2 separate regions of the Homo sapiens genome follow, and region 1 is linked to region 2. Evidence: fine-mapped QTL for protein levels in blood plasma. Region 2 holds a variant in brackets. A gene starts in the other region. All regions are shown on their reverse strands.

Evidence for each region. PIP is the chance, under the fine-mapping model, that this variant and not a neighbour inherited with it causes the effect. The UK Biobank Pharma Proteomics Project read protein levels with antibody pairs (Olink). The fine-mapping took linkage between variants from a reference panel, not from the people measured, so its PIPs are less certain.
Region 1: it holds the start of TG, and the variant in region 2 is fine-mapped to the plasma level of the TG protein (UK Biobank, PIP above 0.99).

Annotation. Positions count from the first base shown.
Region 1 is chr8:132,863,143-132,871,142 of GRCh38, reverse strand. It overlaps TG (thyroglobulin), which reads right to left and starts at 4,185. Exons shown (of 48, transcript NM_003235.5): 1 at 4,076-4,185; 2 at 2,920-3,028; 3 at 1,317-1,414. The coding sequence starts at 4,142.
Region 2 is chr6:148,195,867-148,204,390 of GRCh38, reverse strand. It overlaps a transcript of SASH1 not described here. Among named protein-coding and RNA genes, the nearest start is that of SASH1, 140 kb to the left of the region's middle. The variant G/A (reference allele first, on the strand shown) is at 4,235.

The DNA of each region.
Region 1 (8,000 bases), not on the chromosome of region 2:
TGCCACATCAGTCAGGTACCCCAGAGCACGGTCCTGTGGAGGGGAGATGGGATCAGAGTGCAGGCCTGGCATTAACAGAGCTTTTCTGAGTCCAGTTTTCTCCACGGGCTCTCTGTGTGATCCTGGGGAAGCTGCTTCACCACTCTGCTTGTAGGCTAGTGACATTAACTGCTACAGTTTCAGCATTTGTCCCCTCCAAATCTCATGTTGAAATCTGATCCCCAATGTGGGAGGTGTTTGAGTCCTGGAAGTGGATCCCTTATGAAGAGATGAATGCCTTCCCTCGGAGTGAGTGAGTTCCAGCTCTATTAGTGTCCATAAGAGCTGAATGTTAAAAAGAGCCTGGCACCTCCACCTTCTATCTCTCTAGCTTTCTCTCTCACATGATCTCTGCACAGATGGTTCCTCTTCCCCTTGTACCATGAGTGGAAGCAGCCTGAGGTCCTCAGCAGCAGCAGAAGCTAGTGGCATGCTTCGGCACAGCCTGCAGAGCTGTGAGCCAAACACATCTCTTTTCTTTATAAATTATCTAGCCGCAGGCATTTCTTTATAACAACACAAATGGACTGAGACATTAGCAATGATCACCCCTATTGAATACCTACTATGTGCCTAGTGTTTACACGTGTTCTAAATCCTCACATCATACAAGGCAGATGCTATATTCATGTTACAGATGAGGACCCATAGCTCAGTGAGGATGCCTGACTCAGCCAAGCTCACACAGCAGGAGAGTATGGGGCCAGCGTGCCCCCATGACAACCATACTAGATGCATAAAACCAGTACCCCAAACAGAGCTTTTAATCCGTCAAAGGATAGTTTTGGTTTTAGGCTCAATTTCCTCATTTTGAGGTGGTTGGCTTAAGTTAACCATTGTTTTAGAGTTATGACATGCTTTAAATAGGGACTGTGTTTCTTTGATTACTCACTATAATAATTATCTTAACTGGATAGCTTTGACCCAAGTCTTAAATTTTAGAAACTCCTCACACCACGGGTGAGAAGGCACTCATATTTTTCTGGTCACTTTCTGATTTCAGGAGATGTTGATGTCTGTTCACCATTGTCTTCTCAGCATGTGGCTCATGGGAGGAACTGGGTAGATATTTATTGAACAAATGACTGGACTTTCACAGTGGCCCTGCAGGAAATAGGGCCTTCCATGGCTTGCAGGGATGATTCTTATTCACAGAGGAGAAGCCAGCAGCCCAGAGGGAGGACCTGCTCAGTCACCCACCCAAACCCAGTGCTCATTCCTGGAAGTGAGTTGTCCTAGCAGGGTCCCTCCAAGGGACGTCCCCCACTCCCACTTACAAGCCACAGGCCGTCCTGGCTGCCTGCTGCCCAGCACTTCACTGCCGTTGGCACCCACACACCAGCAGGAGCGGCCGTCGTTCTGGCACTGGACAGTCCTGAGGAGGAGACACAGACCAGGTGACCCTGGGATGGGCCCCCAAAGCCACATGCCGGCTCCCACTCAGGCTACTTTTCTTCTTCATTTCCATTCTTGCAAGTTTTGGTTCGTTTAAATTAGGGAGAGAGTGGAGTGGAGAAGGGTGGCTGACCTGGGAAAGGAAAGGCCCCACTTTTCCTGCCTGGCTAGCACCTGCTCTGCCTCCTGCCCCAGCCATTCATTCACCACCTGTCCAGCCTGCCAGCCCCAAAACAAGTGACCCACCCTGGAGTGCAGGGCTTCAGCCACATCCACCAAGTGTCCTCAGGCATTATGAGGCTGCAGAGGGTAAAGGCAGTGCCCACATTGTATGGATAGGGAGTGGGGGCTTGGGGGTGGGATGTTAGTGGGATCAGGGGCCAGCAGGGTATATTGGGAAGCACATGGGTGGGGTCAGGCCAGGCCATAGAGTTGACTCCCCAGAAATGATGACTGAACTGAGACCTGCAGGATGGTCAGAGGTATAAGAAGGTAAAAGATATTCCAGGTAAAGGGAACAGCATATGCAAAGCCTCCTGAAGAGAGGCCAGGTTTGAAACTGCAAGAGGCCAGAACAAGAGAGTTGGGAATGGGAATATAAATAAGGCTGGTGAAAGTGAGACTTCCTCCTTAACTCCTTCCTTGCTGTTCCAGAATTCCCAGTGATCTAAGCAGGGACTGCTCTAGCAGCATCTCTGCACACTCGTGGGAGGTTAGGCACATTAAGAGTGTACATAAGATAGCAGCAGGGAGGGAGGTTTCACAGACATTTCCCAGAACGCAGTTATATAAATGGAGTTCCCCTGATTCAACATGACTGGAATAGCACAAGGAAATTTCAATGCATGCACATTGCAAAGGATTCCTGTCTATTCTGCAGGGAAGAATTGTCTAGATTATTACCACACTCTCCACAGAGAGGGTCTCAGGCCCCAAGTCTGCATTAGGGCAGCTGGAGAAACCCCTTTCAGAGAGCAGCTCAATGTGGAGACAGCGACCCAGAAGCCCAGAGGCAGCCTAGAGAGCTAGTCCGGGCAGGGTCGGTGGCAGCTAAGGACTAGGAAGTCAAGGCAGCCTCTGCTTCCACCACCCCAGCTTCTCAAGAGGATACTTGGAGGAGGGAGAGGTCCCAAAGCACAGATCATTTGACACTCTCCTCAACCTGCCCCACTCCCCACACGTGCCGTTTATTCAAGCCATCACAGAAAAAGTGATGGCAAGAAGAGAAGGGAGGGCAGTGGGAGGATGAAGCATGGATTGGGGTTCACTTGGTCAGATTGTCCAGTGTTGAACAGCTTGGGGAACTGAAAGGCAGGCACCTCCAAATGACAGTGGAACTGAAAGGCAGGCACCTCCAAATGACAGTGGCCAAGCCTCACATGCACAAAGGAGTTGCAGGGCAGAGCTCAGGAAGAGGGGGGAAGGCACAAGATGCTTTTTATGGCATCTTGGACCTTGAGAGTTCGCTGCTGACATAAGCCTTACTGGAAGCTGCCATCCTCTGCACACTGGGGCACGTAGTCTGCTTGCTTCAGAAAGGCCGTTTCCCTCTGCAGCTCACAGGGACGAAGGGGCTGGGCATCCACCTGGTACTCTAGGAAAAGAAAAGTGGTTCATCAAAGAAGAGTGTGGACTGGGCTGCCAGGACAGAGACGGGCTCTCATAAGCACAGATGCTTTTCCAGGGTCATCATCATTACCTATGACAGCCTATTTTAAAATTTGGCAGCTAAGCACACTTTCTTACAAGTATGACATTAGCTCATTTAATGTGCAACATTCTCCTAAGAGGTGACAGGCAATATATCCTTGTCACTCATGAGGCACCAAGTCTCAGGCAGCGAAAGTCGTCTGCCCAAAGTCACGTAACTGGCAAGTGAAGGATCCCAAAATCAACGCTGGGACTACACGTTCCCCGCCCGCCCCCACCCTGCCGCAATTCCCATGAGGCTATTTGGAGTAAGTTAGAGAACCGTAAGGAAGTTCTTCTTGAATCTATCAAGCCATGCCCTGCAGATGTAACATGTTCCAGATAAACATTGAAATACCAATTAATTAATAATGTACATGACTTATTTTTCCATTGAGAACTCTTGTAACACATAGGGTCCTACCCAGAAATCACAACCGCATCATGAGGTGTGTGTTATTTGTTTACTTTTTAAATGAAAAAAAAAAAAAAAAAACAGAAGCTTGGCACTTTGCCCGAAGTCATATGGGTAAGTGGCTGAGCCAAAGACAGAACTTAGGGCTATTTCACTTCATAGGTAGATTTCTTTTTCTACTGCTTCTAAAATACCTGTTATGGATGACACAGACTTTGGAATAGCTAAGGGGATAAAAACCCAAGGTCAATGCCAAAAGTTTGCCAAAATGGTGGGGTGAGGAGGACCTAGAATTGAATTAGGAAGATCAACCACATTTCCCATTTCTGCTCCATCAATCACTAGCTCTGTGACCTCAAGTAATTCAGTTCGGCTCTCTAAATCTGCCTCTTCATCTGAAAAAAAAAAAGCAAATCACTGACATGTGGGAATTTGTGAAGATTAAATTAGATCGCACCTGTTCGAAGGCCCAGGGCAGAGCCTGGCTGACACTGGAGCTCCCTCCCCACCGCCTGGCTCCATGGCCTCAGAACTTACCGAAGATATTGGCCGACACCCAGCAGATGGAGGCCAGCAGGGTGAAGATCTCCAGGACCAGGGCCATTTTCCTGGCCCTTCCTGGGAGGAAGGAGGAGAAACCACTGCTTGCCCTAGGTCCCCTGGCCAGGGAGCTTTTATAGAGCTGCCGTTGGCACTTTCCTTCCCACCCCCAGGTCCTCAGTGAGGCAGTGCCCCATCCTGTTTTCTCTGCTGGTCAAAAGGAGCTCCCTCCACCTGTGTCTACTCCTCCTGAGGGCACTCGTGTGGCCAGTGGAGCATGAGGATCTTGTCTAAACTGTGGGGGAACAGAACGGGGTGGGGTGACTTCAAAATCCTTTTTTATGGGTAAAGACCAAAGCTCTGTATCTTTGGAGGGAACAGGCTCAAGCCCACAGTGAGGGAAAAGCAATCCTTTGTTCTTTCCTTCCCCACCCTACCCTTTCTCCTTCTCCTTCCTCCTTCCTTCTTTCCTTTCTTCCTTTCTTTCTTCTTTCCTTCCTTTCTCCCTTCTATCCTTCTTTCCTTTCATTCTTCCTTCTTTCTTTCCTTCCTTCCCTCTTTCTTTTCTTTCTTCCTTCTTTCCTTCCTTCCTTCTTTTCTTTCTTCTATTCTTTCTCTAACAACCTCTTAGAGCTCCACAGTAGCAGGCACCTAATCTAGACAATGAGGATATGGCAGAGAACAAAACAGGCAAAATCGTGCCCTCATTAATATAGACTGTGAAAACTTTGGTGAGGGAAGCAAAATACACACACACTCATATTCATATTTCTATTACTTTCCTCTCTTTCCTAGGACCTCAGACTTTGTCAACCAAAAGATAGCAGGAACTGTGTATTCCACAGAAAGCCTGTATGTCCATTTGGTTTCTCCTGGCAAACATGGCTTCCTTCCTTCAGTCCTGTTCCTGTGAGACCTGGAAAAACTCACCTCATCTCCCTGAGCCCCAGCCTCCTTCTCTGGAAAGCAAAGTTAAAAGGAGAATAATAATATGTCCCTATTTGTTAAGGTAGTTGTAAGAGAATAGACATTGAAGAGCACATGCTTATTAGACACTAGCAGTTATTATTATTATTATTGATTTTCTTATTTTGCAAAAGCATCATGCCAGGGAATGGCAAGTATTCAGAAGACCAATCCAGCCAGGTAAGGAGCTAGTGACAGATAGGGTCAGGAACTGGCAGGTAATGAGGGCAGGTTGCTGAGCCTGGCACCTGAGGAGAGATGGAGGGACCTGTGAGAATCTGGAGGATATGGTCCCGGGTAGAGTGAAGGGCAGGAGGACAAGCTGGAAAGTGGAAGAGACTCCAAACCCTGGGGAAAATAAAGGGGCCGATATAGCTGCCGTGCCGTAGACTGTACTACCTTCCACAAATAGGGTTGCTATGAATATTAAATGTGTTAAAATATGCAAAGTGCTTAAAACAGTATTTGACACATAATAAGTATCCAGTGTTAGCTACTGTACTAGTCTGCTATGGGTGTCATCACAAACTATCACAGACTGGGTGGCTTAAGTAACAGAAATTTATTTTCTCATAGTTCTGAAGGCTGGAAATCCAAGATCAAAGTGTCAGCACTGTTGGTTTCTTTGGAGACTCCTCTCCTGGGCTTGCAGATGGCCATCTCCTCCCTGTATCCTCACTTGGTCTTCCCTGTGTGTGTTTGTGTCTTAATATTTATTTCTTTTAAGTACACCAGTCATATTGGATTAGAGCCCATCCTTGTGACCTCATTGTGCACTTAATTACCTCTTTAAAGACCCTACCTTCAAATGCGGTCACATTCTGAGGTCCTGGTTTTAGGACTTCAGCATATGGATTTGGGGGGAGAACACAATTCAGTCCATAACAGCTACTGTCATCATTGTTGGGTTCCTGATATAAACTAGAGAAAGTAAAACACAACAGTCATTTGAAGTGTCAGGGTATGGGATTAAAAACAGGGGAGAACCCGTGCTCTGCCCGTCCTTCTTGGGGACCACACATGCCTGGAACTCCCACATCTCTCTCTAGCTCAGTCTCCAGCCAGACTTTTTTGAGCTCAGATCCACTCTGCCTGGACACCCTACAGGTATTTCAAATTCAACATATCCCAACCTGAACTCCTCAACCTTTCTCCTGACATCACCCCATTGGCTGTCTCTGTGATAGTAAATCCGAGCCCCATCCTAGGCTTCTCCCCTCAAGTCTTACCAGCCTCCAGGTCCTACCAGGCTGCTGCTCATTTCTACTTCCTTGGTCCTCCCCTCCTCTGCATCCTCACTCTTCCTGCCTCCGTCACATCCCTACAGCTCAGAACGAGCCAGCCAGAACAGCCTGCTGTACTGCTCCTCACCAGGGCTTCCCCACCAGCTGCAGGAACAGTCCTCTAAAATATGGCCATCCATGTCACTTTGTAGATTCTACAAAAAGAGTGTTTGGATCCTGGTGAATCAAAACACTGTTTCCATTCTGTGATATTAAACAGCACATCACAAGGCTGTTTTCACGGGTGGGGATGGAGACTCAGCCAACAGATGCTCAGGAGGTGCCGTGGCAGGAAGATCAATTCACCCTGGGGAGTGGGAGGACAACTTGGATTAAGACCTAGATGTTAGGTAAAGGTGAGCTGGGGAGTGTATTGGCATTTACTGGAAAAGGCAATACAAGAGGAAGAACTCACCTGCCTGACTCCCTGCTACCTCATTACATAGGCCAAGTTCACCCCAGGCTATGGAGAGCTGGCAGCATCCTTCTCTCTACAGCAATATAATAAGCACAGCATTGTGCAGCCCCTGGTCATTTCTCCATTTCTACATGTTCTAAAGCAGAAAAGTCTTAGAAAAAATTGAATGTGGTTAAAGATTTACCATAAACCTCACTCACCACTCTTCCCATTGCCCTAAAATGCATGCATAAAGCTTGCACAGGTTGGCCTGTGTGCTGAATCATTCTTGCTGGCCTGGCCCCTGAGAAGCAACCCACAGACCCATGCCAGAAGTGTCTCTGCTTCACTGGGTTTGGTGCTTTAGGAACTCTGGGCTCAGGGTTCATGAAGCAGGCCAAGATATCACTGGAATGAGGAGTACTATGAGAGAGGAATGGCAGGTCTGTGAGCTGACTCCACGTCAGACCCCACCTGGAGAAGCAGCAAGGTGTTAGGAGCCTGTGGGGGAGCACCCAGTAGTCCGAAATGCAGAGGCCGCCTTCAAAATCCATGCAAAGAGCTTCCCTCCATACGCAATAGCAGAGGTGCTTCTCTCCACTCAAGCAACAAAGCAGAAAGCTTCAAGAGAATCGAGGCAATGTGTCACTTCCACCACCATGAAACCCTCTTTCTCATAATGACTCAGCTACTGGTCCCTACTTTTACCTCTTCTCCACTGAGCTCTGAGAACAAACAGGCTTCCACAGCGACTCCACATGGCAATGTCCTAATCTTTCTTCACCAACTTGCTCCTTGCTCAGGCCTCCATCACTCTGGCAGGCTCTTCATCGCTGGCCCTGCCACCTCTCCCACTCTTCTTGGCCCAAAATACAACTGCACAACCTTCTCTTTCATCTCCTTCATTTTTTAATACTAAGGTGCTTTATATAATAGGTGCTTACTGAAAATTTAGGGGGAGATGGACAGTAATAGCAATATAGAGGAGGAAATGGCTTCAAATGGATCATCAGACACCACTGTTTCTGACATCCATCCATCAGCTGTCATGCACCACAGGAAATTGCTTCCCAGTCATCTCTCCTTTAGTCCAGCCTGCCACCATATTGCTGGATCCCTGCTACCACTTATGGACAGCTTCTCCCCATCCTCCAAATACCTAGGGACACAAAGCCACAACCCGTCTTCTCCTAGGTTCCTAGGGCAATAATAAACATTTCTGGTTCTTGATTTCTCATCCCAGAAAGACAGAGTGAAAAATACACTTTTCCCTGTA
Region 2 (8,524 bases):
AACCTCCAACTTTTGGGGGAGACTCAGAATGACTATGCAATGAAAAAAGTCTTGCAGATAATTCTCCCCTGTGAAATTGGTCTCTTTTGTACTGTCGATTGTGGTGGTTTCTATACAGTAGCATCCAGCACCTATTCCGCAAACCACTTCCTTCTTAAACCTCAAGGGTTTCTGCAAACCGCATTCAAATGATCTGTAGAAAGCGTTACCCTACACTTTCCATTACATCAGAGCCTTGCCGAGCGGCCCGAGAGGGATTCATCAACTGCTGCTGTGTCCCCATGTGTCTGATTAGCCACAAACACATAATGAATGTGGTTCAGCAGTGTAGGAAGCCGCAGTGGAGAACTGCAGCAAAAATTCCCGGCAATTTTTCTGGCAGCTGTCATCAGTCAACAAAACCCAAACTGACACCTTCAGTTGCCAACAGTTTTGGGTAAAACACATGCATGTTCCCAAGGTACAAGGGCCACAGGTTGAGAGTAAGGTTAAACGATAGAGTTTCTCTACTGGATGGAATGGAAGAAGATAGCAAAGTGAGCTTTTGTGATATTAATAAAGAACCTAATGGATTAATGGAAGGGACTGCTATGTAGGTTTCTGGTGAGTAACCGGTGATGCTGTGAAAGCTACGTGTGGCATCCAATAGTTAGCCCATTTTTACTTCAAGAAAACTCATCCTCGTGCTCTGCAGCAGCTGCTACTGTTTGGATTATGAATAGTTATACGCCAGATGGTGTGGCAGAAAGGACTCACACATATTTTCACATGGACAAATATTATTATTCCAAAACATAAACACGTTAATATAAGTGTTTTTTCTCCTGGGAGAAATCCAGCCCCTGATCTCAGTTATAAGAAAATGACTCAGTCTGTATATGCAAAAATTACCTGCCAAGGTTATTATTGGAAGAAACCCACACCACAGCGTTCCCCAAGTTTTCCTTTCCTTATTTGTAGTCAGCTGCATTTAATGTGATAAAGGAGAAACAGAAAGGAAGGGAGGGAGAGAAGACGGGAGGATGGAAAAGAAGGAAGAGGAAGAGAGTGAATGAAGACACGAGGTAAGGAAGGGGAAAATCACTGTCCCTCCACCCCAGAATTCTCATAATGGTGACAGCAGTGTGTTGGCCTGGGAATTATAATGCCAAATACCTGGTGACCAAAACTAGAAGGCAAAGATGGAAAAGATGGAATCAGGCCATTTAGACACATCAGTGAAAGATTCTTCTGAAGCATACTTCCAGCTCTTTCTCTGATTTTATTTGGAATGTTTCAAGGACAAAGAGTCCATCACAGTCAAGTCAATATAGTTCTCATAACAATGTATCCAGATTTCCCATTTCTAAATTTTTCTTAATTTGGTCTTGTTACTTCTTGCTGTCATTTCAATTTTTCTATATTCTTTCTTTTCTGTTTTTTGTTTTTGTTTTTTTTTTGACACAGCCTTGCTCTGTTGCATAGGCTGGAGTGTAATGGCACAATCTCTGCTCACTGCAACCTCTGCCTACCGGGTTCAAGCGATTCTTGTGCCTCAGCCTCCTGAGTAGCTGAGATTACAGGCACATGCCACCATGCCTGCCTAGTTCTTGTATTTTTAGTAGAGACAGAATTTCGCCACGTTGGCCAGGCTGGTCTGGAACTCCTGACTCAGGTGATCTGCCTGCCTCGGCCTCCCAAAGTGCTGGGATTATAGGCATGAGCCACTGCTCCTCACCTTATATTCTTTCTTTCCCCAGAAATTCCTATAATAAGCTTTTCTTCACAAGAATCTTCCACTCTTGGTGCCAGACATTTTGTAATCAATCCTAAACCCTCCTTCTTTATCTCTCTTCCTGCTAAGCCTTGGTCATTGCCTTCCAAGACTTCTTGCCTAGTTTTCCAGCCTCCCGGCAGCCCTCCTGTCTCCTAGCAGGGTAGACCAGCCCACCAGGGCTCAGGGAGGGCAGACCTGGGGTGATGTGTGCAGGAGGAGATGGAAAGGATGAGTCCAGCTGCAGTCCTTGGATGTCTTTTCGCTATGTGGGCCCTGTGGGTCAGCTCTTTTAACGTGGAACCAGCGCTGTGCCCTACTGAGAAAGGCACACTAGGAAGTTCTGTCCTTGCAGGCAATGTTAGAGTTGGCTTCCATTGTAGAGTAGTTTTTAGTGGGTCCTCTCTTTTGGCATACAATTGCAGGTTTACTACCTACAAGCGAACAATTCACCTAGCATCCTGACTTTCATTCTTTGGAGTTCAAATAACAGATAATTAAAAAAAAAACTGAATCCAGCATTTGCCTATTGCTTGACCACCCTGCTGCATGTACACCCTTCAGCTCCAGGACCACATGTGGTCAGGCTGATAAGTATAAGTGGGTGACTCGGTGGGGGCTAAGAGATAATATGGACCGGGTGAACTGGTGGATATACACCTTCAATAGCATTCAAGCTAAAATGCCTCACAGCCTTGTGCATTCCCACTGGAGAACATCTGCAGGCTGTGTCCAGCCTCAGGGCCACAAGTACACAATCCCTGCTCAGCAACCCACCACCCTTTATGTTCAAGCACATCCCCATATCTTTTATTTTTGTGGCCTCCCCTGGCAGGACCCACTCCATCTGTTCTCCTTTATTCTCAGGCTGTTTGTCTCAATGTCACTTCCACTGGTCCTGGTTCAGATCCTTGGTATCACGAACACCCTCCAGGTCTTCGACAGGCCCCAGGAGCCTTCTGGGCACCCCAGAGCAGTCTCTTCTCTAAGGAAAGCATTCTGGATTACTGCAGCTGTTCCATGGGTGATACGGTTTTGAGCTCTAGGACAGCAATTCTCAAAGTGTGCCCCGAGATCAGCAGTATCGGCATTGCCTGGCAACTTAGAAAAATGCAAATTTGGGGGTCCCACCCTAGGCCACTGAATCAGAAACTCTGGGGGGAGATGCACAGTGGTGGGCCCAGCAATCTGGGTTTTAATCGGCCTTCCAGGAGATTCCACTGCAGGGACAAGCTTGAGAATCACTGCTCTATTCAGTTGGTCCCACCCCGGATGGCAATGTACTTTGGTTTGCCTGTATCCCTCTTAAATTTCACTCCCTAAAACTAAAACTTAACCCATTTAGAGGAACACAGGGGCATTATGCAGACAAAATTAGATAATACCTAGCACAGTTTCTAGCACATGCTAAATTTGCCATACATGTTAATTATTATGATCGTGTCATCATTAATATTATTACGTCAGTGTGGTCCAAGGTCAAATGACCATTTTATGTACAGTAACCTTCTACTATCACTCTAAGAGTCAAATATCTCTATGGTGTTTTTATCTCTCATTTACAGCTCACATATTTACGTGGTAGATGGAAATGTAGACTCTATATTGAATACAACAGCATAAGTGATAGGGCTGAAACTTCCTCACCAGTGGAGAGGAAGTGATCTTGTCACATCAGCCAAAAGTTCTAAGAGCTTGAGGAGGAGGAAGAAAGTTTCCCCAGAATAAAAGAAAGCAGTCACAGAGGTATAATTTCTTTGAGGAGGACACGGGTGGAGTAGTGAAAGGAAAGATCAAAAATTAATTTTAAAGCTTCCCTATATTTCAAAGAACACAGAGAATCTCTCTTCTATGTCTGTCCTTCAATTGTAAATGCCCTGTAAAATCTCCATCCTTCTTCCACTTTAGACAAAAGGCTATTTTGAGTGTTACTATGCAAAAAGTAGAAATGCCAGCCTGTGCGAGGTCTGTTCAAATTCACTCAGTAAAGAATTCTTTCATTAAAATAACTACTAAAGGAGAGCCAAGAGGTTGACCTTCACATTGTTCAAGAGCCACACCAATCACCTCGCCTTGGCACGCACTTGGATCTCTTGCCAGGATTTCAGCAGGTGTTTTCTGAATTGCATCCAGAATCACACTGGACAGAAACACAGCAGAGGTCGCCGAAGCCACATCAATAATGATAAGCAGATGATCGCGGCCCCCTCCCGCTCGCTCTGTGAGCTGCAGAGATCACAGCACTGCTGTCTGTGGGAGGCAGCGCAGCCTTGAGCTTCTAGCCAACAACCAATGTCATTTTAACATATTCAAGACAGACTAGCTGAACCAATGTTTCAGGCTAGAGTTCTAAAGACACAAAATGAGGTTAGGAGAGGAAAGTGAACAGGAAAATATACATGAATATTTTTTATTAGTAACTTTCATTTAGAAATTTGGGACATCTTCAATACAAATGCTTAAAATGCTGTAGTCACAACT[G/A]CTATATTTGCAAGTCCACTTTTTTATTTTTTAACCCAACAAAGTATAATCAAAGGAAAAAGCTAATTCTGAAGTATGTTCCGTCTTGGCATTGTAAGCAGCCAGTGCAATCACTTAAAATACAATTCCATCAAGGGTCGCAGATGAGAAATACTACTATTCCGGGTTTTCTCAGATTCTGGCTCTCAGGGTGACCTATTCAATATCCCTCAGTTGATATTCAGAATATCAGTTTTGACTGATGAGCATCTTCACACATGCTGGTCTTTGCCTTTCTCCAGGTTGCCTTCTCTTTTCTTTCCTTTCCTTTCCTTTTCTTTTCTTTCTTTCCTCCTTCTCTCTCTCTTTTTCTTTCTCTCTCTCTCTCCTTCCTTCCTTCCTTTCTTTTTCTTCCTTTTTCTCTCTTTCTTTCTCCTCTCTCTCTCACTCTCCCTTCCTTTCTTTCTCTTTTCTTTTTCCCAAGACAAAGTCTTGCTCTGTCACCCAGGCTGGAGTGCAGTGGTATGCTCAGAGTTCATCACAGCTCTAACTCCCGGACTGAAGCAGTCCTCCTGCCTCCGCCTGCCGAATAGCTGGAATTACAGGTGTGCACCATCACATCTAGTTAATTTTTAAACTTTTTATAGAGATGGGGTCTCACTATATTGCTCAGGCTGGTTTCAAACTCCTGGCCCCAATTACCAACCTTTTGGATCCTGTATTTGAGAAACAACTACAGTCCTTAAAAGGAGAGAAAAGGGAGTGAGGCCTTATAGCCAAGCTCAGTTTTTTTTTTTTTTTTCTTGAGACGGAGTCTTGCACTGTTGCCCAGGCTGGAGTGCAATGGCAAGATTTCAACTCACTGCAACCTCTGCCTCTCGGGTTCAAGTGATTCTCCTGCTCAGCCTCCTGAGTAGCTGGGCACCCACCACCATACTCAGTTAATTTTTGTATTTTTAGTAGAGACAGTGTTTTGCCATGTTGGCCAAGCTGGTCTCGAACTCCTGACCTCAGGTGATCCGCCTGCCTTGGCCTCTCAAAGTGCTGGGATTACAGGTGTGAGCCACCACGACTGGCCAGCAAAGCTCAGTTCTCATCCCCGTACTGATATCAGCCTCTTGGGAAATACTGAAAAAGTCATTTAACTTCTCTTTGCCTCAATCTCCCTTCTTTGTAAAATGAGGGATTAGTTAAATCAGGGGTCACAGCTGAAATATTCACAGGCCCCGATAAGTACTCAAAAGGTAGGTAAGGAGGAGAATACTTGCCCTGTCTACAGGGGACAGCTATACTCAGCACTAGCTGATAATTGTCATCTTTTGATTCTGTTTCAAACAAAACAAAACAAAACAAAACTGTCCCTGGATTATTATGTGAAAATGTCTTAATTTTAAATATTTGCTAAAAATGTAAATAAAACAACAACAATTATAAAAACCATATGTAGGTCAAACAGAACATGTTGATGATGCTTTAGAGTTCTTGCCTTCTGTGATTCAAAATTTCTCCTGAAACCTGTCTAAGACCTGTCAGTCTAAACATACAACATCTTGATTTTCATCATTTGTGTTCCAGTTGTGGTGGCTTGCTTCCCCTTTCAAAACATCAGATGGACTGGATACCTCTTTTTCCTGTATGTAGCACACACTTTATTTATGTCAAATATAACTATGTACATGCCTAGAAAAGTTAATCATCTTGACCTGAAGTATGCTGCCAAGTAGCCAAATATCAGTGGGCGGCTACCTCAATATCAATAAAGACAGAAGGGAGAGATGGGAGAAGCCCACAAACTAGAAATAAAACTAAGTCAGGATATTAGTCCATTTTCACACTGCTAGAAAGAAATATTCAAGACTGGATCATTTATAAAGGAAAGAAGTTTAATTGACTCACAGTTTCACATGGCTGGGGAGAACTCAGGAAACTTACAATCATGGCGGAAGGCAAAGGAGAGGCAAGGACCTTCTTCACATGGCAACAAGAGAGGGGAGTGAGTGAAGGGGAAGAATGCCCTATAAAACCATCAGACAGGCACGGCAGCTCATGCCTGTGATTGCAGCACTTTGGGAGGCTGAGGTGGGCCAATCACTTGAGGTTAGGAGTGTGAGACCAGCTTGGCCAACTTGGTGAAGCCCTGTTTCTACTAAAAATACAACAATGAGCCAGGCGTGGTGTTGGGCAGCTATAATTCCAGCTACTCTGGATGCTGAGGCAGGAGACTCACTAGAACATGGGAGGCGGAGGTTGCAGTGAGCCGAGATAGCACCACTGCACTCCAGCCTGGGTGACAGAGCCAGACTCCATCTCAAAACAAAACAAAAACAAAACCCACCAGATCTTGTGAGAACTCACTCATTATCAGGGGAACAGCATGAGGAAAACCACCCTATGATCCAATCACCTACCTCCCTCGATACATGGGGATTACAATTAGAGATAAGACTCAGGTGGGGACACAGAGCCAAACCATATTGGTCAGTGAGGAAGAAAGAGGAAAAATGTTTCCTGTTCATCAAACAGTAGCTGAGGAACAGATCCTAGGAAAATGACCCTCAGGAGCATGAGTCCAGCTGTGAGGAAGGAGAAGCTTTGAGGGAGCAGAATGCTCCAGGTGGCAGGAGGGTGGCCTGCAAGAGAAATTTTGGCCTGAACTCTCAGGATGGGGACTGATACCTGGAGAATTTTCTAGAAAGGACTTGGTTAACTCAAGGGACAGGGAGGGAAGTATGAGACAAGTTTGCTAGTCTTAGGAATAAATCTATGGAAAATAATTAGACTTCTCTCTTATCCTGAGCAAAAATAGACTGTTGTCTGCAGAAGATATCCATTAGGTGCTGACTTGATGTAGTTTGTATCCTACATAATCCTGTCAGCTGACTGGTGTTTCATGTTTTTCCTTAAAGATATGTTTTTCTCCTTACTCCACTTGTACCACACTGGTCTGGGACCACTGCCATCTCATGTGTAGGTCCTGTAACAATAGCTTTCTTACCAGCCTCTAGAATCTTCAGAATCCAATCTACCTTGCCAGACTCATTTTCCCTAAATGCTGCCTTTATCAAGCCATTCTACTGTTCTGACTCCTTCCACGACTCCCATGTCCTACCCAGTCTAAGATCCTCTGTTTGGTCTTCAAGACTCTCCAGGATCTGCTCCATTCTCTATCTTTCCCCAGTCCCTCACATCCATTTCCTGTTCAATCACTCAGCAGTATCCTGTCACCAGAGGCGTTTCTGCCTCCCAGCATTTACTCGACACCATCATCTCCTTCATCTGGATGCCTATCCCTCTCCTTTCCAAATTCTATCCATCAATTTCCATCATGAAACCTTCTTTGACTCTTCTGGGCCTCACAGACTTCCCTGACTTCAGACTTGCTATTCCACTTAATTTCTGAACCATGCCGTCTGCCACTCAATTATATATTATTCTGTTCTCTAATTGTTTCATGGATGTTTGTCTTATCTCACAATTATATTTTGACCTTCCTGAGTCAAGATCACGTCTTCTTCCTCTGTATTCTCCATAGAAACAGCGGATTTAGTCATAGAGGCTGGGCTCGATGAGCACTTGCCTGATGCTTCAATGAGGCAGGTATTCAGATGAGCTCACTGGGAGAAAGAGGATGGTGGCAAAGAAAGATGGCTGGGGTCTCTTGGGAGGAGATGATCAGACAGGACTATGCAGAGAGTTACCACTGTCCACTTTCCCCAAATAATCATGCATGGCCATCATGCCCTCTGCTACCTGCACTTTCATATATGGTTCGTGCTTGTTGAAGCTGTGCTAGGTTGAATTGTTTCACTGGGTTGTATGCAAGGGGAGACCTAATCTACCAACTGTCCTGGACCAGCACATAGCCTTGAGACTTAAAGCTGCACTTGGAGGCAAGCTTCTGAATTTGAGCTCCCAGGGGTTACTATTATCCTCTTTGAGAGAAGCATGATCCAGTTATGTCTGACATGAAAGTGAACTTCTAAGTGACTCCAATATTCTGCAAGAGTGAAGACATTCAAGAACTCAGATGCACTAAGAGCAAAAAATGATGAGAGAACTCTTGATGGAAGAACCACTCTGATCCTCCTGGTGGAGAAGGCTGAGAGACAATGTCCAACATTCTGTAGGAAATCACCAGAGCCTTAGATTTCTCACTCCCAGCCCACTCATTAACCAGAGAGCACCAAGCCTGTTATTAAATCTCTATGTCTCACAATCTACACAGTTCAGATAACAACCTGCTGACCACAGGAGAGGTTGGGTGCATTAATTATGATAGAAAGCCACTGTGGAAATATACCAGGCCCTCCA